Linked DNA regions of Homo sapiens: regions 2, 3 and 4 are each reported to be linked to region 1. Evidence: microRNA targets listed by miRTarBase, many of them from high-throughput screens and not tested one by one. Region 1 holds a microRNA gene; each other region holds the end of a gene's coding sequence.

The links. Region 1 holds the annotated microRNA hsa-miR-548at-3p (CAAAACCGCAGUAACUUUUGU, at 2,960-2,980, opposite strand). A microRNA usually pairs through its seed, bases 2 to 8, with sites in the 3' UTR of a target mRNA and lowers its output. Matches are read on the target gene's strand: a 7mer-m8 pairs with bases 2 to 8, a 7mer-A1 pairs with bases 2 to 7 and ends in A, and an 8mer does both.
Region 2: miRTarBase lists CHD4 as a target of hsa-miR-548at-3p. Seed matches in the 3' UTR shown: 7mer-A1 at 697-703.
Region 3: the mRNA of SMU1 is a reported target of hsa-miR-548at-3p. Seed matches in the 3' UTR shown: 7mer-m8 at 1,257-1,263.
Region 4: miRTarBase lists GLRX2 as a target of hsa-miR-548at-3p. The part of its 3' UTR that is shown has no 7-base or 8-base seed match.

What each region holds. Positions count from the first base shown.
Region 1 is chr17:42,492,790-42,497,789 of GRCh38, reverse strand. It overlaps MIR548AT (microRNA 548at), which reads right to left and starts at 3,017; the gene lies at 2,960-3,017. It overlaps ATP6V0A1 (ATPase H+ transporting V0 subunit a1), which reads right to left. Exons shown (of 22, transcript NM_001130021.3): 12 at 3,317-3,456; 13 at 2,602-2,756; 14 at 2,074-2,164.
Region 2 is chr12:6,564,630-6,571,029 of GRCh38, reverse strand. It overlaps CHD4 (chromodomain helicase DNA binding protein 4), which reads left to right. Exons shown (of 40, transcript NM_001273.5): 39 at 1-161; 40 at 337-948. The coding sequence ends at 354. NOP2 (NOP2 nucleolar protein) reads left to right here and starts at 2,739. Exons shown (of 16, transcript NM_001258308.2): 1 at 2,739-2,823; 2 at 3,108-3,214; 3 at 4,208-4,253; 4 at 4,413-4,501; 5 at 4,694-4,929. The coding sequence starts at 3,112. It overlaps CHD4-AS1 (CHD4 antisense RNA 1), which reads right to left and starts at 2,659. Exons shown (of 3, transcript NR_199067.1): 1 at 1,500-2,659. RefSeq lists enhancers at 433-727, 2,395-2,444, 2,268-2,889.
Region 3 is chr9:33,040,910-33,049,382 of GRCh38, forward strand. SMU1 (SMU1 DNA replication regulator and spliceosomal factor) reads right to left here. Exons shown (of 12, transcript NM_018225.3): 11 at 7,197-7,349; 12 at 856-6,482. The coding sequence ends at 6,384. Among named protein-coding and RNA genes, the nearest start is that of DNAJA1, 20 kb to the left of the region's middle. RefSeq lists an enhancer at 3,074-3,575 and a silencer at 3,430-3,749.
Region 4 is chr1:193,091,202-193,099,674 of GRCh38, forward strand. It overlaps GLRX2 (glutaredoxin 2), which reads right to left. Exons shown (of 4, transcript NM_197962.3): 3 at 6,383-6,559; 4 at 5,269-5,558. The coding sequence ends at 5,424. It overlaps RO60 (Ro60, Y RNA binding protein), which reads left to right. Exons shown (of 9, transcript NM_001173524.2): 9 at 1-18. Among named protein-coding and RNA genes, the nearest start is that of GLRX2, 10 kb to the right of the region's middle.

The sequences.
Region 1 (5,000 bases):
CTGGGATTACAGGCGTGAGCCACCGCGCCCGGCCAGGACTTATTTTTAAAACATGACCACAATATTGTCATCACACGTAAATGCATTAACAATGATTTCTTTTTTTTTTTTTTCTTTTAGATGGAGTCTTACTCTGTCGCCCAGGCTGGAGTGCAGTGGCATGATCTCGGCTCGCTACAACCTCTGCCTCCTGGGTTCAAGCAATTCTCTGCCTCAACTTCCCGAGTAGCTGGAATTACAGGTGCTCGCCACCACGCCTGGCTAATTTTTTTTGTATTTTTAGTAGAGATGGGATTTCACCATCTTGGCCAGGCAGGTCTTGAACTCCTGACCTCGTGATCCACCAGCCTCGGCCTCCCAAAGTGCTGGGATTACAGGTGTGAGCCACCGTGCCCAGCTAACAATGATTCTTTAATATCATAAAATATATAGTCAATATTCAAATTTCTCTGATCTGTGTCCAAACCATTTTTTTTTTTTTTTTTTTTTGAGACAGGGTCTTCACTCTGTCACCCAGGCCGGAGTGCAGTTACGTGATCTTGGCTCACTGCAACCTCTGCCTCCCAGGTTCAAGCTGTTCTCCTGCCTTAGCCTCCTGCCTTAGGACTACAGGCGTGCACCACCACACCCGGCCAATTTTTATACTTCTGGTAGAGATGGGGTTTCACTATGTTGCCCTGGCTGGTCTGGAATTTCCTGACCGCAAGTCATCTGTCTGCCTCGGCCTCCCAAAGTGCTGGGATTACAGGCGTGAGCCACCGTGCCTGGCTTATACATTATGATTGTAGATATATCTCTTGAGTCTCTAAACTACAGGTTCTCCTTCCATCTTTCCTTTTTCATTCATTACAAAATTTCTTTTGAAGAAATTGGGTTGTTTATCTTATATATTTTCCCACAGTCTATGTTTCGCTGATTGTAGCCCTGTGGTGCTGTCATTCCATCTATTTTTTTGAGATGGAGTCTTGCTATGTCCCCCAGGCTGGAGTGCAGTGGCACGATCTGGGCTCACTGCAACCTCCTCCTCCCGGGCGCAAGCAATTCTTCCACAGCCTCCTGTAGCTGGGACTACAGGCATATGCCACCGTGCCCAGCTAATTTCTGTATTTTTAGTAGAGATGGGGTTTCACCATGTTGACCAGGCTGGTCTCGAACTCCTGACCTCAAGTGATCCACCTGACTCTGTGTCCCAAAGTGCTGGGATTACAGGCATGAGCCACCTCGCCCAGCCTGTATTATTTTTTTTTTTCCTCAGCAGTCAGATGCCCTGTATTACATTCTTGCCGCCACTCCATTTTTACAGCACACAATAAAGAAGACTTGATCATACTTAATTTGCCTAAGCATTTGAAAAAAAAATTAATTCTCGGATAAGTTTTTGTAAGTTCGTAAATATAAGAATGCAAGTCTAAAATCCACAGGAAAAATATATTTCTGCTTTGCTAAAATGTCTGCTAAAAATAAAAAACCAAACTAAGTAAGCAGAAATAAATTAAGAAATGGGAAGGAGTCTTGAAAAATCAATCTTCCCAGAGTCGATATTATTAACCACCTCAGAAATAAGCAGCGCAGGGAAAAGTATGTGGCTCCTCAAGGCACTTGGGTCTCTTATGGCTTAGAAGTCCTCTGAATACATACATCAAGGTTTCCCAAAAATATGTCAACGAAAACCCACATAACTATTTTTGTTTGTTTCTTTCTTTCTTTCTTTTTTTTTTTTTTTTTTTTGAGACGGAGTCTTGCTCTGTCACACAGGCTGGAGTGCAGCTTGCTCACTGCAACCTCTGCCTCCCAGGTTCAAGCGATTCTCCTGCCTCAGTCTCCCGGGTAGCTGGGACTACAGGCATGCGCCACCACGCCCGGCTAATATTTTATTTTTAGTAGAGATAGGGTTTCACCATGCTGACCTCAGGTGATCCCACCTCCTCGGCCTCCCAAAGTGCTGGGATTACAGGCATGAGCGACCATGCCCAGTGAAAGCCCACATAACTATTTATCTTCATTTTAATTCTCTTGCTTCAGGGTTAGTGTTAAAAAATTTGAGGTTAGCATATAGGAAGGAAGTCCTCTTACTGGATCAATGCCAAAAGGGTATGGTCCACCAAACACTCCAGGGAGGGCTGGGTTCAGCTGTAGAACAGGGTTCCCCCGAAGCGTCTCTTCACTACCATGACAGGGAAAAAGTCACATTATTTTTGAACAAGAGAGGGAAACAACAAGGGTCCAGAAACTGACCCCAAAATAAATTACTGTAGCTATCTTGTCTCTTCAATAAAATGGGAGGGGAAAAATAAAGAGGAGAGACTAGCAGCTGAGACTGAGGGATCCAAAATGACAAAAAGAAAAATTAAACACACAAACACACAATCAAGTAGGGAACTGGGGAATCTGGTTTTAGTTTCCAAAAAAAAAAAAAATCATTTCTAATCTTAGTTCCTGGATACTTGCTGAACAAATCACAAAGCAACTCACAGTGTGGAGCATGAATGAGGAGACACTGTCACCACTTCCTAAAGAAGTGTCAGTTTACCACTTGTCTTAAAAATCAGGGCTGCACATGAAAGGAATAAGCTTTGAATTTTAGCTTCTTCTGCAACTTACGTCCAATTATAAGTAAACATCGGCCGTACACTCCAGGATGACCCAAAGATATTAAGAGACTTGGAAAAGCAATCATTGTAGATGAGGCCAGTGTACATGGAGAACACACCCATCAATAAAATAATGTATCGACCACTGAACACAGTGCTAAACATCTGGGAACCAGAAGAAAGAAGTAATGAGAATGTACTCACTGCAGCTCACATTGTGACAATGTTATTCAGAATATACCTGCCCCTTTCTCCAGCACTACTTTACCCCATCCTGATTCAGAGAGCTTGAAGTAAAAACCAAAATACAATGCTAATGAGACAGTCACTTTCACAGGATGTGGCCTCTATTTTTTTATTAGGTTGGCACAAAAGTTACTGCGGTTTTGGCCATTTCTTTTGGCAGCCAAAACCGCAATAACTTTTGCACCAAACCTAAATAATTTTTATTTTTTTAGAGATGGGGTCTCACTATGTTGCCTATGCTGGTCTCGAATTCCTGGGCTCAAGTGATTCTCCTGCCTCAGCCTCCAAGTAGCTGGGACTACAGGCACACACTACCACTTCCAGCTTGCACATGTCGTCTTTGGTGTTAAAATGAACATAACTTCTCTACTTCCTTTTGATAAATTCATGGATAAAAGACTTCCAGATCATAATTTTCATAATGAATGCTTGGGAAATTATAAAATTTCAGTTCAATGCAGATGTAACTTAAACATTACCTCATTCTCATTCTTCTGGGAAAGGATCCGGCTCTCCCTCAGTACCATCCACACAGCAAAAAGGGTCATTAAAATGCCATGACCGAAGTCTCCAAACATCACAGCAAATAGAAAAGGGAACGTGATAATAGTATACGGAGCTATGAAGAAACCAAAAAAAGAAAAATACAAAGTACATTAAACCATAGCAATTCCACAAATATTACATTCTTTTCCATACCCACCCCCCTTTTTTTTTTTGAGATGGAGTCTTGCTCTGTCAGCCAGCAATGTCTCAATCTTGGCTCACTGCAACCTCCATCTCCCAGGTTCAAGTGATTCTCCTGCCTCAGCCTCTTGAGTAGCTGGGATTACAGGTGCCCACCACCATGCCTAGCTAAGTTTTGTATTTTTAGTAGAGACAGGGTTTCACCATGTTGCCCAGGCTGGTCTCCGACTCTGACCTCAAGTGATCCACCTGCCTCGGCCTCCCAAAGTGCTGGCATTACAGGCGTGAGCCACCGTGCCCAGGCTTCCATAATCTTAAGATCAATATAAGGTGACTTACTCCCCAGCTGCCAGACAGATAGGACTCTCAGAGAAAATCTTTCATGGCAGAATCAACACATCTTCACAAAGTAGCTAATGAAATTTGAGCTACTGATAACTTTTTTTAAAAGAGAGATGGGGTCTTTCTCTGCCACCCAGGCTGGAGTGCAGTGGTTTCATCACAGCTCACTGCAGCCTGCAACCCCTGGACTCAAGTTATCCTCCCACCTCAGCCTCCCAAACAGTTGGAACTACAAGTATGTGCCACCATGCCCAGTTAATTTTGTTTTAAAATTACTGATAAATAATATTTTTTTAGATGGAATCTCACTATTTTGCCCAAGCTAGTCCTGAACTTGTGGCCTTGAGCAATCCTCCCACCTCAGCCTCCTGAATATCCGAGATTACAGGCATGAGGCACTGTGCCTGGCAGCTCTGATAACATTTCAAACAAAGAACAGTGGAAATGAAGGTGTAACCTTGACAACATTGGTTTGTTCTCTGACTCTCTTGTAACTCGTGGGACCCTGCTCCCAGGGCAGGCCAGCTGTCTTCTCTTTGTGCAGCAACCATGTCCCAGTGATATAAAGCTAAATATCAGATAACGTACAGATGGAGAGAGCCCAGAGCAAAGCAGTTCTTCCATAGGGCTCCAACTGAAAATGAATACTCACACTCTTGATTTAATAATTAACTCTCCAAATATAGGAGAAATCTGTGTTGTACCTAAAGTGGCCAATACTTGCTACATTTTTTCTGTCTAACCTTGGAACAGGGAAGCCAAAAAAAAAGCCATTTAAAAATATCAGACATCTTAGAAGAAACATTTTGCTTAAAACAGTTCCTGCAAATGATTTGCTAGAGAAGTCCAGGTGTTTTAGGGCTGTGAGGGCACATGAAAGAATCCAGTCTCATGAACTTTTTTTTTGAGACAGAGTCTTGCTCTGTCACTCAGGCTGGAGTGCAGTGGCACAATTTAGGCTCACTATAACTTCTGTCTCTTGGGTTCAAGCAATTCTCCTGTCTAGGCCTCCTGAGTAGCTGGGATTACAGGCATGCACCACCAGGCCTGGCTAATTTTCTTGTATTTTTAGTAGAGATAGGGTTTCACCATGTTGGCCAGGCTGGTCTCGAACTCCTGACCTTAAGTGATCCT
Region 2 (6,400 bases), not on the chromosome of region 1:
TGAAACAGCTGGAAGAACTGCTGAGTGACATGAAAGCTGATGTGACTCGACTCCCAGCTACCATTGCCCGAATTCCCCCAGTTGCTGTGAGGTTACAGATGTCAGAGCGTAACATTCTCAGCCGCCTGGCAAACCGGGCACCCGAACCTACCCCACAGCAGGTAGGACCATTTTCTTCTTGACACCACCTCTTCCTGCAGAACCATTCTGGAGCTTGTAACTTTGCTGTATGTCCCTAGCTTTACATACTGGGTGGGTGGCCTATCAGTGAATTCCCTTGAGATTGGGTGGATTCCTATCATCTGGAATTCTGACTCCTCGGGTCTCCTTCTCTAGGTAGCCCAGCAGCAGTGAAGATGCAGACTGATACCACCTCCACCGCTGAGCAGTGACCTTCCTCACTTTCTCTTGTCCCAGCTTCTCCCCTGGGGGCCTGAGAGACCCTCACCTTCCTTCTGCCCATCTTCCATGTTGTAAAGGAACAGCCCCAGTGCACTGGGGGAGGGGAGGGAGTGAGGGGCAGTGGTGCCCTTCCTGCAGAAGAGACATGCAGCAGTAGCGCTGGCGCCATCTGCAGGAGCTGGCGGGCTGGCCTTCTGGACCCTGGCTTCTCCCCACTGTAACGCCTGTTACACACAAACTGTTGTGGGTTCCTGCCAGGCTTGAAGAAAATGATCTGAATTTTTTCCTCCTTTTGGTTTTATTTTGTTGGTTTATTTTGTGTTTTCTTTTCTCCTTTTTGGGGGGTATTCAGAGTGGGCTGGGCCCCTGGGCGAGACACAGCTACCTCTGTTGGCATCTTTTTAATACCAGGAACCCAGCGGCTCTAGCCACTGAGCGGCTAAATGAAATAAAGTGGAAAAAAAAAAAAAGGAAAAAACCAAAAGCATAAAAAACCACAGCAAATTTCTTGATGAAAATTGAAAATAAAAGTTTCCTTGTATTTTAGTGCTCTGGTTCAGTGTGGGTGTAGGTGCAGGTGGATGAGTGTGTGCGGCAGGAGCCTGGCACCTGTATAGTTGAAAATTAAGGGCTACGTGGTGTCCTGATACCCCACTGAGTAACTGGGTTCTGTGTGTGGGTGCAGTATGTGCCTTGCCAACGTTGACTTCCACCTGTGGAAAATGAGAGGCTGCAAAACTGCGGGCACCGCCGCTTAATGGCTCTGTGACCTTGAGCAAGTTGTTTAACTTTGGTGGGATGCAGATATCTCATGTATACCTCATACGGTTGTCAAGTTAAACCAGTGAAGTACATGGAACGGTTTTAACACCTAACCACTACCTTAATGTTAGTTTCTAGGAAGGCTGAGGGGGGTTTTCTTGCTAAGTTGTGCAAAATTGGGATGCAATTTGTGGAAGAACACAGCCTCAATCCCACACCCCCGGAGGCCCGACCTAACGTCCTCCAACCTTGAAACCCTTGTAGTTCACCCCTTCTCATGTCCCAGACCAGGTCAGCCTTGCAACCCGTTGTTTCCCAACTAATTGTAGACCCACCTGAAAGCGAGTTCCGGCGAAGAGGCCCCCTGCGAATGAGGTGCAGTGCAGCACCTTAATTGAGGGGCTGAGCAGGGGTCAGCATCAAGGAAGGTGCTGGGAGGGCGGGGCACGGTGGCTCACAGCCTGTAATCTCAGCACAAAGGTGGGGGCAGGAGGATCGCTTAAGCCCAGGAGTTCTAGACCAGCCCTGGCAATATAGTGAGACGCCACCCCCTACAACCCGTCTCTATAAAAAGATTTTTAAAAAAGGGGCAAAGAGGAGGAGGTAAGTGGCATGGAATTCCACGGTTTTTTTTGTTTGTTTGTTTTGAGATGGAGTCTCGCTTTGTTGCCAGGCTGGAGTACAGTGGCGCGATCTCAGCTCACTGCAACCTCCCCCTCCCGGGTTCAAGCGATTCTCCTGCCTCAGCCTCCCGAGTAGCTGGGACTACACGCGTGCGCCAGCCACCATGCCCAACTAATTTTTGTATTTTTAATAGAGACAAGGTTGGCCAAGATGGTCTCGGATTTCTTGACCTCGTGATCCGCCCGCCTCGACCTCCCAAAGTGCTGGGATTACAGGCGTGAGCCACCGAGCCCGGCTGGTTTTTTTGTTTTTTTTTTTTGAGGTGGAGTTTCGCTCTTGGTGAGGCTTAAGTGGCACGATCTCGGCTTACTGCAACCTCCGCCTCCCGGGCTCAAGCAATTCTGCCTCAGCCTCTCGAGTAGCTGGGATTATAGGCGCCCGCCACCACGCCCGGCTAATTTTGTATTTTTAGTAGAAGCAGGGTTTCACCATATTGGCCAGGCTGGTCTCGAACTCCTGACCTCAAGTGATCCACCCACCTCAGCCTCCCAAAGTGCTGGGATTACAGGCGTGAGCCACTGCGCCCAGCCTGGAATTCCGTGATCTTGACGCTGGACTAGGGCAGTGGATGCGAGGGAGAGGGCTCCAATGTCGGGCCCTGGTTCGAGGAGAAGGTGCGGCTTTCACCCAACAGAAACCGGCCGTGAGGCTAAAAGCCAACTCCATGAGGGAAGGTCGGTCAAGCTCAATGGTTTCGTCACATTGCTCCCTCCACCCGCCGCGGGTGTAAGCTGCGCGTCTCCTTCGAATTGCCCCCTACTCGCCGCCGCCGGCTCCGCTGGCGTTCCCAGGGCGAGCGTAAGTTCCGGGTGCGGCGGCCGACTAGGCGCAACAGGAAGAGGCGGGGCCGCGAGGCTAGCGCTACCCGTGCGCCTGCGTGGAACGATTCTGTGGCGAGTGCCGGCCGAAAGCTAGGTCCGGATTGCACGTGGAGGGCCGCCCGAAGGGCACTCTCGGACATTAACCCGCATTCTGGTGGGTCTAGAGGAAATTGGGGGACGAAGAGTGGCAGCACTGACCTGGTCTGGGACGTGGGGAGAAGGGTGCGCTACCTGGGTTTCAGGTGGGAGGGCGTTCGGTCGGGCCTCCAGGGGGATAGCGGGGGTGCTTGAGTCGCGGGTGCTGAGTCGGGAGTGCTGAGTGAGTTGCGGGTGCTGAGTTGAGGCTGTGCCCTTTCCCACTATAATACGCCAAGCGTGCGTTCTGCCGTTCCCTCCGACACGCGCGACGCCACCTTCTCCCATTTCTGCCTGCCACAGTACCATGGGGCGCAAGTTGGACCCTACGAAGGAGAAGCGGGGGCCAGGCCGAAAGGCCCGGAAGCAGAAGGGTGCCGAGACAGAACTCGTCAGATTCTTGCCTGCAGGTAAGGATTAGTTGTGGCCTCCTGATCCCTCAGCTTTTGCAGTATTCTGTATTATAACCTCTTCTCTTTTTTAGTTTCTGTTCATTTTATATTTAAGTGGAATCTTCTCTGTATGAGTTACTAGGAGGTATGAATGAAACAGCCGTTTAGATTGTAGGGAACTGTTTAGGTCGTAGAGATGTGAAGACACGGACACAACTATTATTCATGCAAGGGAAAAGTGTGATTTAAAACAATTGTGAGTTCAGAGGAAGGGGGAGCCCATGCAGAACTGTAAAAGTTTTTGTTAAGCTGGGTTTTGAAAAATGGGTAACATTGTAGCAAGAGGAAGTAGTGAAGGGGAGGGGTCAGTCACTGATTTGCCTTTTGGAAGGGGTGGAAATGGAAAAGCACGGATCTGGCTGCTTCATGCCGAGTAGTAGTATACTGTGTGGAAGACTGGTGGGAGGTAACACTGGACCGGGAGTTTGTGTTGGGCATTGGATAAAGGATGCAGTTTATTGAGATAGTAGGAAGTCCTGGGCACTGTATTAAACTTGTTGGTCATGTTATATCGCTTAATCATCTTAGAGTCCTGTGAGAGAGGCACTATTAAGGAAACACTTTGGGAGGCCGAGGCAGGTGGATCACCTGAGGTCCAGTGTTCGAGACCAGCCTGGCCAACATGGTGAAACCCTGTCTTTACTAAAAATACAACAATTAGCTGGGTGTGGTGATGGGAGGCTGAGGCAATAGAATCGCTTGAATCTGGGAGAAGGAGGTTGCAGTGAGTTGAGATCACGCCATTGCACTCCAGCCTGGAAGACAAGAGTGAAACTCCATTTCAAAAAAAAAAAAGAAACTTGTATACAGTTATTAAATAATAACAGGGCTGAGATTTAAATGGACTCCTTTTAATTAGTGTACTAATTCTCTTACCATGTTTATTTCCGTTCCCATTTATTTTTAATGTCCCCTGTAACTTGTTCTGCCTCGTTTTTCTTTTTTAAACAGTAAGTGACGAAAATTCCAAGAGGCTGTCTAGTCGTGCTCGAAAGAGGTAAGTGTGGGTGTCAAAACTTAAGTAGGTTAAATTGGTACTGCTCATCTTTGACCACAGAGTTAATTCTAGACTCTCACATTTCCCTATGGTGGAAATGGCAGAGCCTGGAAGTATCTTCCCATTTCTTCACTCCTTGAATCTCTTGTGTCTTTTCAGGGCAGCCAAGAGGAGATTGGGCTCTGTTGAAGCCCCTAAGACAAATAAGTCTCCTGAGGCCAAACCATTGCCTGGAAAGCTACCAAAAGGTCCGTGAAACTAAGAGCTGGATGCTACATGAGGAGTCCCTTTGGGTCCTGGGTAGGGAAGAACTCGCTAAACATTTCCGGAGTGAAAGGAACAGCCAAAGGACATTCTGAGGGGTAGAAAGTACAGGCTCCCAGGGTGTGGGGCCAGGGAATGTGTGGCTGCCATTAGTCCAGGACTCTTCAAACCCTTAGGGATCTCTGCAGGAGCTGTCCAGACAGCTGGTAAGAAGGGACCCCAGTCCCTATTTAATGCTCCTCGAGGCAAGAAGCGCCCAGCACCTGGCAGTGATGAGGAAGAGGAGGAGGAAGACTCTGAAGAAGATGGTATGGTGAACCACGGGGACCTCTGGGGCTCCGAGGACGATGCTGATACGGTAGATGACTATGGAGCTGACTCCAACTCTGAGGATGAGGAGGAAGGTGAAGCGGTGAGATTCATCTTTTTGGGCATTCATAGAAGGATCCTTGCTATTTAGTTTCTTTCCCAGATTCTTGAGACTGTTTCTTAGTGGCAAGGATAAGCCTGACTAGAGGAAAGGGGTTTTTGTGCTCCATCACTGTTTCCCTACTGCCTTATATCCTCCCAGTGCACTACAAGTTTGAAAGAGCTGTAGGATAGAGCATTTAAAAAAATCTAGAAGGCTGTCTTGGTGTAGGTATGGGAAGGTGGACAATGGTGTGCTCCACTGATGGGCACAGAAATGCACTTTTTATAAAGCAGTTATCTCAGAACTTTGAAAAATTTGTTCCTTTTGGCTGGGTATGGTGCCTCACATCTGTAATCCCAGCACTTTGGGAGGCTGAGGCAGGAGGATTGCTTGAGCCCAGGAATTGGAGACCAGCTTGGGCAACATAGGGAGATCCCGTATCTACAAAAAATTAAAAAATTGGCCTGGCACAGTGGCTCATGCCTATAATCCTAGCACTTTGGGAGGCCAAGGTGGGCGGATCACCTGAGCTCCGGAGTTCGAGACCAGCCTGGACAATATGGCGAAACCCCATCCCTACTAAAAATATGAAAATTAGCTGGTGTGGTGGTATATGCCTGTAATCCCAGCTACCTGGGAGGCTGAGGCAGGAAAATTGCTTGAACCTGTGAGGCGGAGATGGCAGTGAGCCGAGATCATGCCATTGCACTCCAGCCTGGGCAACAAAGTGAGACTCTGTCTCAAAAAAAAAAAAAGTTAAGTTAAAAAATGGTTTAAAAATTAGCTGGGTGTGGTGGCGTACGCCTGTAGTCCCAGCTTCTCAGGATGCTGAAGCGGGAAGATGACTGGAGCTTGGGAGGTTGAGGCTGCAGTGAGCTGTGATCTTACCACTGCACTCCAGCTTGGGTGACAGAGTGAGACTGTCTCAAAAAAAAAAAAAAAAAATAACTGCTTCCTTTTGACATAGTAATTCCCTATTAAGGAAGATGATCCAAAATGTCAGCAAATAGTTCTTTACTGAGGTGCAGGAAGTTATTATACAATTAGTGTGTGGATGTATTATTAGAATCGTATAGAATAAAAAGAGAAGGTCCCCATGTGCACCCCCTTCCTACATCCCCTTGTATCTACAGGGTCATTATTAGGTTTGCAGGCACCATGTGGATCATAATGCCAAAAACTCAGGAAACTTCCAAAATACACAATATGCTTAAGTAAGTTATGGTTCATGCATATGATGCAGTTACACTGGTCATTATGTCTATGAAAATGCCTGTGATGTAACTGAAGTCTAAAAAGCAAGAAACAAACTTGAAAATGGATTATGTGAAAAATACAGAGTAAGTAAAAAAAAAAAAAAAACGACAAAATGGGCCAGGCACGGTGGCTCACACCTGTAATCCCAGCACTTTGGGAGGCCGAGGTGGGCGGATCACCTGAGGTCAGGAGTTCAAAACCAGCTTGGCCATCA
Region 3 (8,473 bases), not on the chromosome of region 1:
TTGCTGTAGAAAAGTCTGGCAGCTGCTTAAAAAGCTAAACATGGAATTACCACATGACCCAGAGCTGGCCCTCCTTTTTGGGTTTCACATCCATGGATTTAGTCAACTTTGGATCAAAAACAATTGGGAAAAATTGTTTCCTGACCATGTACAGACTTCAGCTGTTAAAAGTATAACAGCTGTTTACATAGTACTTACATTGTATTAGGTATTACCAGTAACCTAGAGCTAGATGGCTAAATTACGCAGGATGTGTAGGTTATATGCAAATAACCATCTTGTTTTATATCAGGGACTTGAGTACCCTCGGATTCTGGTATCCATGGAAAGTCCTGGAACCAGTACCCCCATGGATACTGAGGGATGACTATACAAAAGGAATTAAAAACGAATGAAGGCCGGGCGCGGTGGCTCATACCTCTAATCTCAGCACTTTGGGCAGCCTAGGCGGGCTGATCACCTAAGGTCAGGAGTTGAAGACCAGCCTGGCCAACGTGGTGAAACCCCGTCTCCACTAAAAAGACAAAAATTAGCCGGGTGTGGTGGTGGGCGCCTATAATCCCAGCTACTTGGGAGGCTGAGGCAGGAGAAACGCTTGAACCCAGGAGGTGGAGGTTGCAGCGAACCAAGATTGTATCATTGTACTCCAGCCTGGGCGACAAGAGGGAGACTGTCTCAAAAAAAAAAAAAAAAAAAAAAAACTCGTATGGTCAGTGTTTACTGTGCATTCTCAACAGCCCAAAGTGGAAACCTGACTGTCCACCAACAAATGGTTAATGTGTACCTACAAATCTCTCAATTCTCAATATACATGTGTACATACACTGTGAAATACACAGCCATTAAAAGGAATACTTTTTATACTTCCCCCAAATATGAAGCACTTTACTGTTTGATACATGGATGAACCTTTAAAACATGCTAAATGAAATAAGCCAGATAAAAAAGGACAAGTATTGTATAATTTCACTTATATGAACTAAACTTAGACAAATGCATTGAGGCAGAAACAGTACCAAAGGCTGAGGGGAAGGGAAGGAGAAGTTAATTGACAATGTTACAGGGCTTCTGTTTAGGGTGATGACATTTTGGAAATACAATAGTGGTTGCGTAACATCGTAAATAATGCCACTGAATTGCACAATTGTTTAGGAAAATTTGTTACATGTTTTACAATTAAAAATCCTAAGAACACTAAAAGAAAGTCATATTAGGTCGGTTGGTGCAAAAGTAATGTGCCATTACTTTTAATGGCAAAAACCGCAATTACTTTTGCACTAACCTAATAGTTATATCCTGAAGAGGCAGAAACTGATAGGTTTGTCTGTGTAGTTTTTCAGCTTGTATTATTACTACCACTAACAGCCTCTGTTGAACCCTTCATTACTATGTAAGCAGCCATATTTAATTCTCAGAACAATGTAATGAGGGAGAGCCTATGAAAAAACAAAGCCTATGAAACAGAGCCTATGAAAAAACATTAACCAAGGTCATCATCCACAAAAATACAAGTTCCAGCACTAACTCTGCTTTCTCTGTGATGCTTCTCCTGCCCATTCATACTTGTAGGGAATAGGAGTAGAGGCCAATTATGTCGCTTGAGAGTGCTCTTGGAACAGTGGCAAATTTTCTGTACGTGAAATTAGCTTCTCAACTTTTTTGTACGTACGGTACTGGTTCTTAACCTTGGCTACCATTGGAATTACCCGGGAAACATTAAAACACTCATCAGGTCCCACCCTCCAGGGATTCTGTATAACTCGGCTGGGTGTAGCCTAAGCATCAAAATGATTATGCGCAGCCAAGGTTGAAAGCCACCAACACTGACACATGGATTTAATATTAACCACTTGGAACAGAATACCACTGTTAAAATTGCCGTGGAAGGTTAAATAATGGGCAGCCCTTGCTATTCCAAGTTTGGTTTTTTTGTTTTTTGTTTTTGAGACCAAGTCTTGCTCTGTCACCCAGGCTGGAGTGCAGTGGCACAGTCTCAGCTCACTGCAACCTCTGCCTCCCGGGTTCCAGCTATTCTCCTGCCTCAGCCTCCTAGGTAGCTGGGACTACAGGCGTGTGCCACCATGCCCGGCTAATTTTGTATCCTTAGTAGAGACAGGGTGTCACCATGTTGGCCAGGGTGGTCTTGAACTCCTGACCTCGTGATCCACCCACCTCGGCCTCCCAAAGTGCTGGGATTACAGGCTTGAGCCACCGTGCCCGGCCTATTGTAAGTTTTAAACAACCTCAGACCAGGGAACTTCCTCACTTGGACATACACTTCATAGCAATTTCTTCTCTTAAAATAGTGGAAAATGAAGCTGTAAAAGCACAGTGAATGAGAACACTAGCAAGCTATGGCAATTTGAAAAAATGTGATTTTAAGAGTCAGTCTTGCACCTTTATCATTTAAATTTGGTTATCTCAGCATGAAACTTCTGAGACTGACAGCAAGAATTAAAACACCTTTTGTATATGCGGAAACTACCCTGTAGTCTACCTGCTCTCAAATTTGAGCACGCTTGCTGGGCCCCACCACCAATTTCTGATTCTGTAGGTCTGGGATAGGACCTTAGAATGTGTCTATCACGTGACACTTGTAAGAACCACTGTTCTAGCACAAGCCAAAAGAAGTGACAGCAAAGACTGACATCCAGAATCCTCTAATTCAGTTCTCTCTACTCATCTCACTACCTGTGCTCTGCTTAGGTGAATGTGTTTGCAGCATGTGGAGGAACAATCCATGTATTCTTTGTCCCTGCCCAAACCTAAAGATTGAGGAGGAACTGACAGCAATATTGAGAGTGAGGCAAGAGAGAAAAAAAACCTAGCTTCGGAGTCACATCTGGTTTTCAATGCGAGCTTCGTGCAAGTTGGACTGAGTTAGGTGCCTCACGTCTGGAAACCTGTTTCTTCATGTGCATTTGCGCACCCTCATTACATTGTTCTGAGAATTAAATATGGCTGCTTACATAGCAAGGAAGGGCTCAACAGAGGCCGTTAGTGGTAGTAATAATACATGCTGAAAAAAAACAACTGGTGAAGAAGATACTGAATTGTACCTGAGATTTATACCATTTGCTGTTAAAAAAAAAAAAAAAAAAAAAGCCATACTACTCCCAAATACCTCCGCGCAATGTTTTCCAGTCATTAATTCAACAGCAGAATAGGGGATAGGACAAATGTCCTTATGCTCATGGAATTAATTTTAACGCCAGGTAGTTTAGCTTCTATGTTAAGTGCTAGAGAGCAGCATCCGTTAAATCTGGTGGCTGCAGCAGAGCACTTCCCTAGGAACCGACTGCACACGCCCAATTCAGAAGGAAGTGAGCACTGATTCCCGGCAGCCAACTCCCGTTCGCGCAGCCGCTGCCACCGGCCCTTAAGACGATGTGACCGCCAATTTTGTAACAGTGACGTCACCCGACGTCTGCAGGCCCTGACAGTTGGCTCTAGCGGGTGCGCAGTCTCCCTACCCCCGGTAAGGGGCTCTACCGGCCCTGGACCCAAGATGGGACTCCTACCTCCGACCACCCGGAGCAGCGGCGCCCCAGATCCGGCCGTCCGCCCTGCGCGTGCGCGGCCCGACCCCGCCGCGGTCTGGCTGTAAGGGCGCTGGAGGGGAGCTGGGCTGCCCCAGCCTTCAATGCTGGAGGGACGGCCGCGTGGGGCTTCAGAAAGGCTAGGCGCCGAGGAGTGTAAGCAGCGTGTGCCCATTTAAAGACAAAATCAGTGTGTTTTTCAGGTTTGTACGAAATGAAGTTGTAGAAAGATTAACAAGGGTTACCTGGGAAAGGCAGATTTTCAACTTAGCGTTTACATGTTCACCCAGTGCATTATTTTATTTAAAAAGAAGAAAAATATATACTTAACGGCTCCTAATCCAGCTCTCTTTGCCTGGTCTCCCAAGACACCTATCATTTTGCCCAGCACATACCTTGCCGCTGTGCCACACTGGAGTCCCCGGTTAGGTTCCCTGTGCTTAGACCGCCCCCTAGTCCCTCCAGGAAGCCTTTCCCAACCCTTTCGCGTTAACTGCCCGCCTCATCATCACAAAGGTAACTTGAGCTTTTATCAGTTTTAATTACTCCTTTTAATTTGCTCTTCTTCCCTATGTTTAGGCAGAAACGAGTCTTTTTTTAACCATATTCATCACCTGGTGCCAGCAACAGAAGTGTTCCCTAAAAATTCCTAGAATAAACCAACACGTGCTGACTAGATTCTCCATCTTCATAAACGGTGATACAAACTATGCACATCATAACTACCAGCTTCATGAGGTCAAGACTAAATCAAAAATTCTCAAGGACTTTTCTAAAAATTTTTTTAGCATAAACTGTTTCCTCTAACTTAAACTTCTCTTAAGTGAACGTGTCTTTCCACTGGGATGACTGTCTACATGCTCAGGAATCCTGAATTCATGACTATGTTCAACTCCCACGACCATTTTTAAATCATCAAAATGGCAGCAAATGTCATTACCTGGACCAAAAAGCTGCAGGTTTTGTGGCAAATGGGAAATGTGTTATAGAATATGACTGGGAAAGAGGGATTTCTTAGTGCTGCCCAGAATTAATTCAGCAAACACTGAACATTACTACGTGCCACATATAGGATCATACTGCATTTCAGGTCACCATCAAAGGTAAATTACAAGGCTGGGCGCAGTGGCTCATGCCTGTAATCCCAGCACTTTGGGAGGCCAGGGCAGGCGGATCACCTGAGGTCAGGAGTTCAAGACCAGCCTGGCCAACATGGCAAAACCCCCGCTCTACTAAAAATACAAAAATTAGCCAGGCATGCTGGCATGCGCCTGTAGTCCCAGCTACTTGGGAGGCTAAGGCAGGAGAATCGCTTGAACCTGGGAAGTGGAAGTTGCAGTTAGCTGAGATGGCACCACTGCACTCCAGCCTGGGCAACAGAGCAAGACTCCATCTCAGAAAAATAAAATAAATTTTTTAAAAAGGTAAATTACAAGACTGCAAAACTTTTTAAAAAAACCTTCCCCACTAGTTTGTACCTAATAAATGCTAACATTTAAAAGGGGGCACAAAAGGCCTGCAGAAATAAGAACTCACGTTCTTGAAAGTACTGCCTAGCATGGTATCTTCCTCATCATCAGAGGTGCTCTATACATCTTCAGTTGAAACGTGAAACAGACATCCATATGCAAAATATTTTCAAGGGTTTTGTTGGCTTTTACATGTTTTTCTTTAGATAACTGGTAATGATGCACATTACAAAGGAGACTTTTCTAAATCTCAAGTCCTTTGCTAATTTTTCTTTGGAACAACAGCACATTTTCAATGCCAAACCTTCTCCTACAACATACAAAGGGGAGATGCCAAAACTCTGAATTCTTGTAACGGATCCTGCAACTAGTTCTATCCAGAAGATGGAGACAATATTCCCTGGAGTTGACTGAACATGTGAGAAGGCACAGCTCAGAAGGAGAGGAAGGCTGAGGGCAGTGAAATGAGAACCTATGCATCACCTGGCCTTTTTACATGTTAGTCTATCCTACTATCCCAGGAATTCACTTCTGCTGTACTTGAGATTCAGGGATAATAATGTGACTCCTCCTCCCACATTCTAAGTAAATATGTTAACTAGATGAGCATTTATGTACATTTTAGAACAAAGTCTCCAGAAAGGTATAAAGTTTATTAACATCTTTAAAAAAAAAAAAAAAAAAAAAGATGGGCCGGGCATGGTGGCTCACGCCTGTGATCCCAGCACTTTGGGAGGCCAAGGCGGGTGGATCCTTTGAGGTCAGGAGTTTGAGACCAGCCTGGCCAACATGGTGAAACCCCATCTCTACTAAAAATACAAAAAAATTAGCCAGGCATGGTGTCGCACACCTGTAGTCCCCAGCTACTCGGGAGGCTGAGGCAAGAGAATCGCTTGAACCTGGGAGGCGGAGGTTGCAGTGAACCAAGATCGTGCCGCTGCACTCCAGCCTGGGCAACAAGCAAAACTCCATCTCAAAAAAAAAAAAAAAGATGGAACAGAACACAGCTACTGAATATGATATAGTTCCTTATTTACAAGTTTTACTATGGGAGGGACATTTTCCTCAGCATTTCAAATAATCAGAGGAGTAGAATTTTTTTCTAGAAATATCAGTATTTCACTCTCCAGGTCGAAGATTAATGAAAACATTAAGTGACTGCACCAGTTAGAAGAAGATAAACTAATACCTTAAAAATATATAAAAAAAGAAAGGGTAGTTGCTACTTAAACATGAATTTTCACAAAATTATTCTGTGACTAATTCAGACAATCTATTTGCTTAGAAAAGCTGGCAAAAAAAAAAAAAAGCACATTACATGAATATGCTTCATTTAAGTACATGCTTTCGAGCTGATTTAAAAAGAAAAGTTGAATTATGGTTTCCAGAGCTTTAGGAGTCCATCTTCACTGTAGGTAGCAATCAGGTTCTGATGAGGGTGATGTGCAATACCAATCACATCCTTCTCGTGCACCTGGAACATGTAAAGCACAGGGTTAGGATGTACAGATCTGCAATAAATCACTCTGATGAGGCTTCCAGAGGTGGGTGGAAGGGAAAAAGAGATCTTGGGAGGCCACATATTCCAAATGGCATAGGAGAAAGATGGAGGAGGGTTTTCCAACTCACATCACATTGTGACATAATAATAAACTTTAGGCTGGGCGCAGTGGCTCATGTCTGCAATCCCAGTACTTTGGGAGGCAGAGGCGGGTGGATCACTTGAGGTCAGGAGTTCAAGACCAGCCTGGCCAACAGGGTGAAACCCCGTCTCCACTAAAGATACAAAAAATTAGCCAGGAGTGGTGGCATGTGCCTGTAGTCCCAGTTACTTGGGAGGCTGAGGCAGGAGAATCACTTGAAACCAGGAGGCAGAGGTTGTAGTGAGCCGAGATCACACCACTGCACTCCAGCCTGGGTGACAGAGTGAGACTCCCTCTCAAAATAAAATAAAATAAAATAAAAATAAACAAACTTATATAGTGTTAAGCCACCGAGATTTGGGGATCATCATAGCAGCTGACATTAATTTTACTTCTTGAATTTGACATGGAGCTAAATGTTTTAAAACAACATATTTTATACTGAGGGTCACATCGATAGCTCTGGAAAAGGCACATACTTCAGAGTTCAGAAAGACACAAGTCCTACCATATTTCTTTAGATGAACTTAGTAAGTAATACTCACTGTCAAAGTTCTCTCCAGTTTGCCAGTGACTGTACTGAAACAGTAGAGCACAAAGTCCTCCCCTACACAGTAGATCCATTCACCACGGGGAGAGAGGGCACAGCAAACAAAGTCCCCACCTTCTCTTTTACCAGAACTGAAGCTTCTGACAATCTAGATCACACCACACCCCAAGAAAAAAACATCAGGATTAGTAGCAGCTCAACCATGTGCAGCATTTTAAACTGACATTTTTACGTTGTTATTTTGCACTTTGGTTTACTATCATTTGTAATTAGATCTCCAGTCCTGTTCATCATGTGCTAACTCCCCTTGCCTGGGAAATATTCAATAGATAAGTAATCTAAACTAAGTGGCAGACAAAAATTTAGAATTCATACATCCCACGTCACCAATCATGCCCTAAAGAGACATATTACCCTTAAGCAAATTTCATTGCCATACAAAAAACAATTTTCTAAATCAATATACCAGTATTTCTCAAAGCTTTCTGGATGTCTGCTCTCCAGTTTCCTCTAACAGAATGAGAAGCTTTCCCCATACAGGATGACACTCAGTCTCTAAGACTTTGCTTGCTCTATTGATACATTAAAATCATCATAAACCAAGCTGAGAGAAACCAATCTGAAAAGGCGAACAGTTTACATACTATATGCTTCCATTTCTATACCATTTTCAAAATGACAAAATTATAATAATGGAAAACAGATCAGTGGTTGCCAAGGGTTAGGGCTTGGGATTAACCTGAAATTTAAAACATGATACCATTTACATTAGCAGCCCCAAAGTGAAAATACTTAGGTATAAATCTAACAAAATACATACAATATTTAAATGAGGAAAATTACAAAATTCTGATGAAGGATATCAAAGAACTACACAGAGATATTCTATGTTCATGAACAGGAAGACTCAATATGGTAAAGATGTCAGTTCTTCCCAACTTAATCTACAGATTTCATACAATCCCAATCAAAATCCCAGCAAATTATTTTGTGGATATTGACAACCCAATTCTAAAGCTTACGCAAAGAGGCAAAAGACCCAGAATAGCGAACTCAATGTTGAAAGAGAAGGACAAAGTTGGAGGGCTCACAATACCCAACTTCAAGATTTACTACTAATCTACAGTAATGAAGACAGTGTGGTATTGGATCAATGGAACAGGATACAAAGCCCAGAAATACACTCAACTGATTTTTGACAAAGTAGCAAAAGCAATATAATAGAGAAAAGATAGTGTTTTCAACAAGAGATGCCATAATTCGACACTTACA
Region 4 (8,473 bases), not on the chromosome of region 1:
TCAAACCTACAAGCAAATTCATTCCAAGAAGTGAATATAGTAGTAAAACATAAAGACTATTGCAATAAAAAGTTTCCAGGCCAGTGACTTGTTTAATTACATTCACATTTTTACATTCACTTTGCCTTTCAAAGCAGGAGTATTTTATAAAACTGAAATAAAACTTTAAATTGTCAAGCTGGTGCTTAAAGTTATGTAAAATCTGATTTAAGTTTATTTCATTTCCAAGGAAAGGACCCTGAAAGGAGGGGACAGGGAGCTTCCTAGGTCTGTTGATAAACTAACTGATGCTTTGTCAAGTCTTCCAAGTTTTCACTGTAAATAATACAACTAACAATGTAATTTTGCTGTTTTCTAATAGAGAATGAATGAATATATTAATGTATTACATTTGTTTCATGATAAAACAGTTTTCACTGATACTGTGAAATCCTTTCTCTCCTTTCTAGCCTTGCAAAATACCCTACTAAATAAATCATTTTAGACATGGAGTGCAGGTGGACACTGTGTGAACTGTTTTTGGTCAGTTATTGTAGAAATTGATAGATGTACCAAATAAACTCTATGCACATTAAACAAGTGTCTGTCTATCTCTTTCAAGAAATACGAATGTTAAGGTTATAATATGCCTTAAAAAATCTAAAGCCTTTAGTAATCTTGTATTTGAACAAGGTAAAATTTAAGTTTTGATAATTAATATTGACCTTTTAATGTATCTAGTTTTATGTAAGTATTAAAAGTATATGAAGTTAAAGATTCTTTACCCATGGAATTCAATTATAACAAAATGATTAGATTTAATGAAAACAAATTATTTAAAGTTTTAAAATAGGATTCTTTTGTGAAAAGATCTACTCAAAATTGCCTTTGGCAAAAGTTATCATCCAAACACAAAAAGTCAACTATGCAAATAAAAACACTGTTTCAGTGCCAATTTGCAGACATTTTTCTCTCAATTCCCATAAAAATTTTCTGAAAAGTTCTAAGATCTGAACTGTGGGTAACTGAAAGCAAGTTACATCAGAATATATTCACCAAAACTTCAAAACATTTGGTTGATTTTACAGCACTCATTTCAACACTTGTACAAGAAGGATCACAAATTATACATACTAGATTTAATAAATTTTAACAATATTAAACCTTATGAAGAAAACCTGACTTTAAAAGATGTTGTTCAAATGGTAATTTTTTATCAGTAAACAGTAAAATCCAGGTACAGAAGATCCCTTTTTTTCTTCAACAGCTTTTCAATTACAGATATTTTGGCAATTAAAATGTAAATTGATTATCTAATGATAAAGTGAAAAATGGCCTAGTTTTTTATATTAATGAACTCCAGTAAACAGCTCGTATTTCAGATCTTAAAATAAAGGGCCGGGCATTGTGGCTTACACCTGTAATCATAGCACTTCAGGAGGCCAAAGGAGGAGGACTGCTTGAGCCTAGGAGTTCAAAACTAAAAAGTTGTAACTATGGGGATCTTGCTGGGCAACACAGTAAGACCCCCATATTTACAAAAAACTAAAAAGAATTAGTTGAGCATGGTGGCATGTGCCTGTAGCCCTAGCTATTCAGAAGGCTACGGTAGGAGGATCACTTCAGCCCAGGAGTTTGAGGCTGCAGTGAGCCATGATAGAGCCACTGTTCTCCATCCTGGGCTACAGAGGGAGACCCTGTCTCAAAAAAAAAAAAAAAAATGTAAATAAAAAATGTAAAAATAAGGACTGAGGAAAAAAATTACAAGTTTTTCTTAGTCACCATTATCTTACTTTTATCCAGCTGTAAGGTATGGAAAGGGAGAAGAAATGGAAATCAATATCCAAGACAACACGAAACCCCAGAGGCTTCCCCTGCCCCCTAAATTCTTGGCTGGGTACAGGCAGGAATCTTGGAAAACCCTGATGGGTCCACAAGAAAACACACATACCTGAACCATTGTGATTAATGATAGCCATTATGTATTGTCTATTAAAAACCACTCTGAAAGATTTACATGTATTATCTCCATTCCTCAAAAAGTAAATCCTAAAGGAAAGTACTATTACCTACATTTTATAAGAAACTTGAAGTTCTGGGAGGTTAAGTCACCTACCTAATGGTTACACCTTTAGTGATCTGAACGCTTGTCTGTCTTGGCAAATCATCAGCTATGCTCTGAAAGTATATTACGAATTTTTTTAACTGAAGATTTAGTGGTGGTATGCTGTGGTCTCCTATCTAAATCTTTCTCCCTTAACCCCCAGCTTTGTAACCAGCCCCTTGCATACAGTTAAAACTAAAGCTGTTGGCATTCCACGATTGGCACTGTCAGTAAGGGAGCTGCTGGCTTCAGTGCTTCCCTATATCCTTGGATTCTGCTCCTGGTTTTGTTTTCCTCTTGGAGAGTCCCTATACTTTTTAAAACCTGCTTAGCCTTGCATTTTTAAAAATTTATTATTGTGTCCGATATTTTAAACGTTTTAGAGCGGCAAGCTTTTGTTATTATTGTTTTGGGGTTTTTTTCAAAGATATTTAATGTGCCATATGACAAAAAGAGGTCAGATTTATTGTTATTTTCTTTCATTCCTTAGCGTTTAACAAATAGGAGAGATCTGCTTCCTTTTTGATGCAGTGCTAAACCCTCCAAAGTAAAAATCTTTTATTAGTCAATGAGTTTAATTCAGAAGACTAAGATGCAGATATTAGAAGGGTTTATTTCTTCTATTTTAAATAAAGCCATAGTGAGAATCAGGTATCATATTACCTTCAGTAGAGTTTTTGAGGCTTTTGATAAGGCTTCTCTCCCTAATGTTGAATTCTTTCAAGATCTGAACATAATCAAGAACGAACCACCACTCGCCTCTCACCCTATGTCCTACCAGTCTAGGAAGCATTGATAAAAGATGTTTCTTCACAGGCCAGGTGCAGTGGCTCATGCCTGTAATCCTAGCACTTTGGGAGGCCAAGGCAGGCGGATCGCCTGAGCTCAGGAGTTTGAGACCAGCCTGGCCAACGTGGCGAAATCCTGGCTGTACTAAAAATACAAAAAATTAGCGAAGTGTGGTGGTGCTCGCCTGTAGTCCCAGCTACTCTCAGGAGGCTGAGGATTGAGAATCGCTTGTACCCAGGAAGTGGAAGTTGCAGTGAGCTGAGATTGCGCCATTGCCCCCCAGTCTGAGCAACGGAGCGAGACTGTTTCAAAAAAAAAATGCTAAAGGTAAAGATGTTTTTCACAGTCGAGTACTGGTCAGTGTTTCTATACCTTGAAGTAACTTGTCTCTACCCTTAATACCTAGTATGATGAACAATTATGACACAATTTTACCTTTCTCAGGTAATAGACTTCAACTCTAACAAAATGTGTTTTCAGAATCCCCAAAAGCCTGAATCTAACAACGATTTTACAACATAGCAAGAACTTTCTTATGACATAATGCAAAATAAAGAACTAAAGACATTCTACTCTTTGTTCCATTCTAGTGTTATAACCTAAATTATCACATGGGAATGAAATTCTTGTCTAAATTCTTGATCAAGAGGTTTCCTAATGGCAGTTTAAATCCAAGTAAGAAGCATCATTGATGGCAAAAGGCCAAGGAAGCCACCAGCTATTTTCTTCAGGACTGTTCCAGATTCTCTGGTCCATCCTGACAAAAACCAGAAGCACTCTTGAAATCCATTTTTCCTCCACCTCTGATGAAGGGTTTTTTCTTCTCAGCATCTGGTAATCTGCCCCAAGTGACTCTGTGGGATCAACTAGGAAAATGCTTTGTATAGTAGGCACTTTAAAAATTCTTGTTGATAGGAAGCTGGAAAGACGATTTCATTAATGAAGTACTGAACGTCTTCAATCATTGTAAAGTAAGACTTCCTATAGGATAAATCTTGTTTGCTAAGTTTAGCTGAATTGAAATCAGTTTGAATAGTATTCCCAGTATTGAACACATTAAGTGTTCAAAGGCTCTTGGAAATTGAGTTAAATTGTGAGGTGGAGAGTTCTGCTTTCCAGAATTTATATATATATATGTATTACAATACACATAAGGCCGGGCACGGTGGCTCATGCCTGTAATCCCAGCACTTTGGGAAGCCGAGGCAGGTGGATCATGAGGTCAGGAGTTTGAGACCAGTCTGGCCAAGATGGTGAAACCCCGTCTCTACTAAAAAATACAAAAATTAGCCAGGTGCGGTGGCGGGCACATGTGATCCCAGCTACTCAGGATGCTGAGGCAGGAGAATTGCTTGAACGCGGGAGGCGGAGTTTGCAGTGAGCCGAGATCGCGCCACTGCACTCTAGCCTGGGCGACAAAGCAAGACTCTGTCTCAAAATAAATAAATAAATAAAATACACATAAATTCTGGAAAGCAGAACTCTCCACCTCACAATCTAATTCAAGTACATTTAATATATAAAATGTGTATGTGTGTGTATATATATATGAAATGTACTCAAGTTAAATTGTGAGGTGGAGAGTTCTACTTTCCAAAAATATATATATAAAAAACCTCAAAATTTATATATATATATATATATAAAACCTCAAACTCCTGGGCTCAAGAGATCCTCCTGCCTCAGCCTCCTGAGTAGCTAGGACTCCAGGCATGTGCCATCACACCAGGCTAATTTTTGTTTATTTGTTGTAAATATGGGGGTCTTGCTATGTAGACCAAGCTGATCTCCAACACCTGAGCTCAGGTGATCCTTGCGCCTTGGCCTCTCTAAGTGCTAGAATCACAGGCGTGAGCCACCATCCCATGCCAACTAAAGTACATTTCTACACTGTTTCAAAAGTTCATCCTCATACAATGCCGAAATCTTCTCCTTTTAATTTCTGCCCATAGGTATAGTTTTAATGACAAATGAACTATTAAGTCATTAATGACTTAATGAACTATTAAGTCATTAAATGAGTAATTTAGTTTCTCTAAGATAAATTTCATTCCATGCTAAAAATTTAATATACTTCTATTACTCTACAAGTACAAAGTGTGAAGGCTTTTCACAATATCGTATAAGATATTCCTGCCTAGTTCACAAGTGTATCAGCAAAAGCCTTAAATTTTAAAGAGAAATCAAATATCAGTCCTTACCACTTAAAAACTATGTGAGATAAAGAGTTAACTCCTGAATAGGAAATAAAGAATTCCAAATGCTTACCTTCTAGCTCTTGGTTGTAAAATTCATATCTAAATTCCTAATAAAATACATTCTTATCTTGATACAACTCCAACCTTTCATTTTTTTAATACCATCCCTTTTTCTCAAGAATTGGCAAGTGGGAAGAAGAGGTTTCCACCGCAATTTATTGTTCATTATTTTTACATCTTCTTCGTGAAGACAATGCATGTATTTAAAACATCCTCAAACATTTAAAAGACATTATCGGGCATTACCACTTTAAATAACTGACACTGTACTAGCAAACTTATTAGTATAAACATCACTGAAATTCTTTCCTCTTACTTTTTTTTAAATAACACTGATGAACTAGTGGGAGCAATTTTCCTTCTTTGTGAAGCCTATGAGTGTCAGTTGCACCTCCAATAAAAGTACCATTGACAAATATTCTTGGAACCTGTTGGACAAACAAAAGAAGAATTAGGCTTTACTCTAGTATCAGAACTAAGATCATTTCACATAATAACGAGACATTTGAACTCTGGGTACTTTTATGAGCCTGGCACCACAAAGCTCTTTCACAAATTAAATCTTAAAATCTTTACCCTTTAAGGTAGGTATTATTTTTAGCCCTGTTTTGGAGGAAAATGAGGCACAGGAACTTGCACAAAATCACAATGATGGTACATGACAGACTGGGATTCAAATCCAAACAATCTGATTCTAAAACCTTTCTTCCTGATTACTAAAGCTTTAAATAAACTAAAGCAGATAAACAGTAATATTTAGTTATTTCTTACATTTGTTTACTGAAGGGAAAGAGTGCACTATAAACTTTCAATAAACTTGAAAGTGGCAACACTGTACATTTTTCTGATTATGCATATTATGGAAAAATCCAAATTTCAAGAATCTAAAAACATGGAGCACTAAAGCACTCCTATTAGAAAAGTAATTGAAGACCAACCCCTGTATTGCCCAGGTAAAGGGAGGAAGAATACTTTCATCTTGCCAAGAGCTCCAAGAGGAACTCAAAGATCCATAGACAAGCACTCATAATAACACTACTCATCAACCCCAGTCAAAACACACACACAGAATAAAAATAAAATAAATCAACTCTGCTGTTTCCTATTCTAAGAATCTGGTTCCTAGATCTGCAGCTGCTTTATCTATCCTCAGAGAATGTCTGGCTCATTTTCCTAACACAAGGTTCTAGGCTCTGGGTGATCTAGTTTACAACCTATTAAAGAGGAACAGCACCACAGAGGATATACTCACAGTTCTTTCACCAGTCATTTTGTAAAGAGCATCTTGGAACTGGTTTCCATATTCAAGCAGGTCCAGTTCCACCACTTTATAGTTAACATTCATGTCATGGAAAAGCTTTTTTGCCATTGTACAGTAAGAACAGGATGTTTTTGAGAAAATCACCACACAATTATCAGAAATTGTTTCCTGAAATAAAACCACAAAAAATCATTTTAATTCTAGACATTACCATTTGGAAATAAATTAAGATATAATGGAAAGGGTATGGATTTTGGTCTCTCATGATTCTGGGCTCAAACTAAGCATCATCTATTTTTTCTCATCTGCAGATTGAGGATATTTTTCATTTCAAAGCAATGTTATTAGAAAAAAGATATAACAAAAAGTGCCTGGCATAGAGCAATAACAATAAATAATAATTGTAGCCAATTCATATACAGCAACCATTTCTGTGTGCCAGGTACTATTCTCAACAATTTATCTTCACTGTGTTATTTAAACCTCACTACAATCCTGAGGTAGGTCCTATTATTGTCCCCACTTCACAGTTGAGGAAAGTGAGGTGCAGAGGAAGATCAACAATTTGTTCATGGTTCTCAGCTAATAGGTGGAAGAGCTGGGATTAGACCCAGGCAAATCTGGCTCTACAGTCCAGATATTTAATCTCCATTATACTCCTTTTTCAGCCGGGTACAGTGGCTCATACCTGTAATCCCAGCACTGTGGGAGGCTGAAGCAGGCAGATCACTTGAGGTAAGGAGTTCGAGACCAGCCTGGCCAAAATGGTGAAACTCCATCTCTACTAAAAACACAAAAGTTGCCAGGCATGGTGGCACATCCCTGTAATCCCAGCTACTCAGAAGGCTGAGGCAGGAGAATCACTTGAACCAGGGAGGTGGTTCCAGTGATTCTCCAGCCTGAGGAACACAGTAAGTGGACTCTGTCTCAAAACAAACAAACAAACAAACAAAAAAACCAAAACATTGTACATTTCTTTTTTTTGAGACAAAGTCTCACTGTGTCCCCCAGGCTGGAGTGCAGTGGTGGGATCTCAGCAACCTGCGCCTCCCAGGTTCAAGCGATTCTCATGCCTCAGCCTCCCGAGTAGTTAGGATTATAGGCACCTGCCACCACGGCCAGTTAATTTTTGTTTTTTAGTAGAGACGGGGTTTCACCATGTTGGCCAGGCTCGTCTCAAACTCCTGACCTCAGGTGATCCACCCGCCTCAGCCTCCCAAAGTGCTGGGATTACAGGTGTGAGCCACCGCGCCCAGCCCCAAAACATTATACTTCTTTTCAAATATTCAGTAGGTATTCAGGAGTTAACTCCTTACCTTCTATTCTATAACTTTCAATGGTAAGGAATGGTATATGATTTCTTCTTAAAATGTAAGGCTTACCCCTCTACTTCTATCCTTTCCTATATACCTTTATAGTACAAAAGCTGTCATTACTCTCTTGATAAGGTATTCTCATACTCTTAATTCAGGAAAAGCTACTTCCAGAAATGCTGATTCAATGAGTTTGAGGTAGAAGTTGAAAACTGTATGTTTAAAAAACCTCTCCATATAATGATGATATCAGCCTGGTTTGAAAACTACCTTCCAGGCCTTTACCACAATGGCTATGAGATTCTGCTATGCATCCACGCAGCCTATGAAGTTTTTCTTTTTGTTTTTTGTTTCTAAACATATGAATGCCTGGGACCTTCAAAAGATTTTGAATGGATAGATTTAGCACCCAGACATTTGTCTAGGTTTTTTTTTGTTTTGTTTTGTTTTTGTTTGAGACAGTCTTACTCTGTCGTCCAGGCTGGAGTACAAGGGTGCGATCTCAGCTCACTGCAGCCTTAACCTCCTGAGCTCAGGTGATTCTCCCACCTCAGCCTGCCAAGTGTCTGGGACTACAGACATGTGTCACCACACCTCGATATTTTTTGTAGAGACAGGGTTTCGCCATGTTGCCCAAGCTGGTGTTGAACTCCTAGGCTCAAGCAATCTACCTGCCTCGGCCTTCCAAAGTGCTGGGATTAAGACATGAGCCACTGTGCCCAGCCTGTCTAGTCTGTTCTTTTGTGGTGGATCATAAGCAGTACCTTCA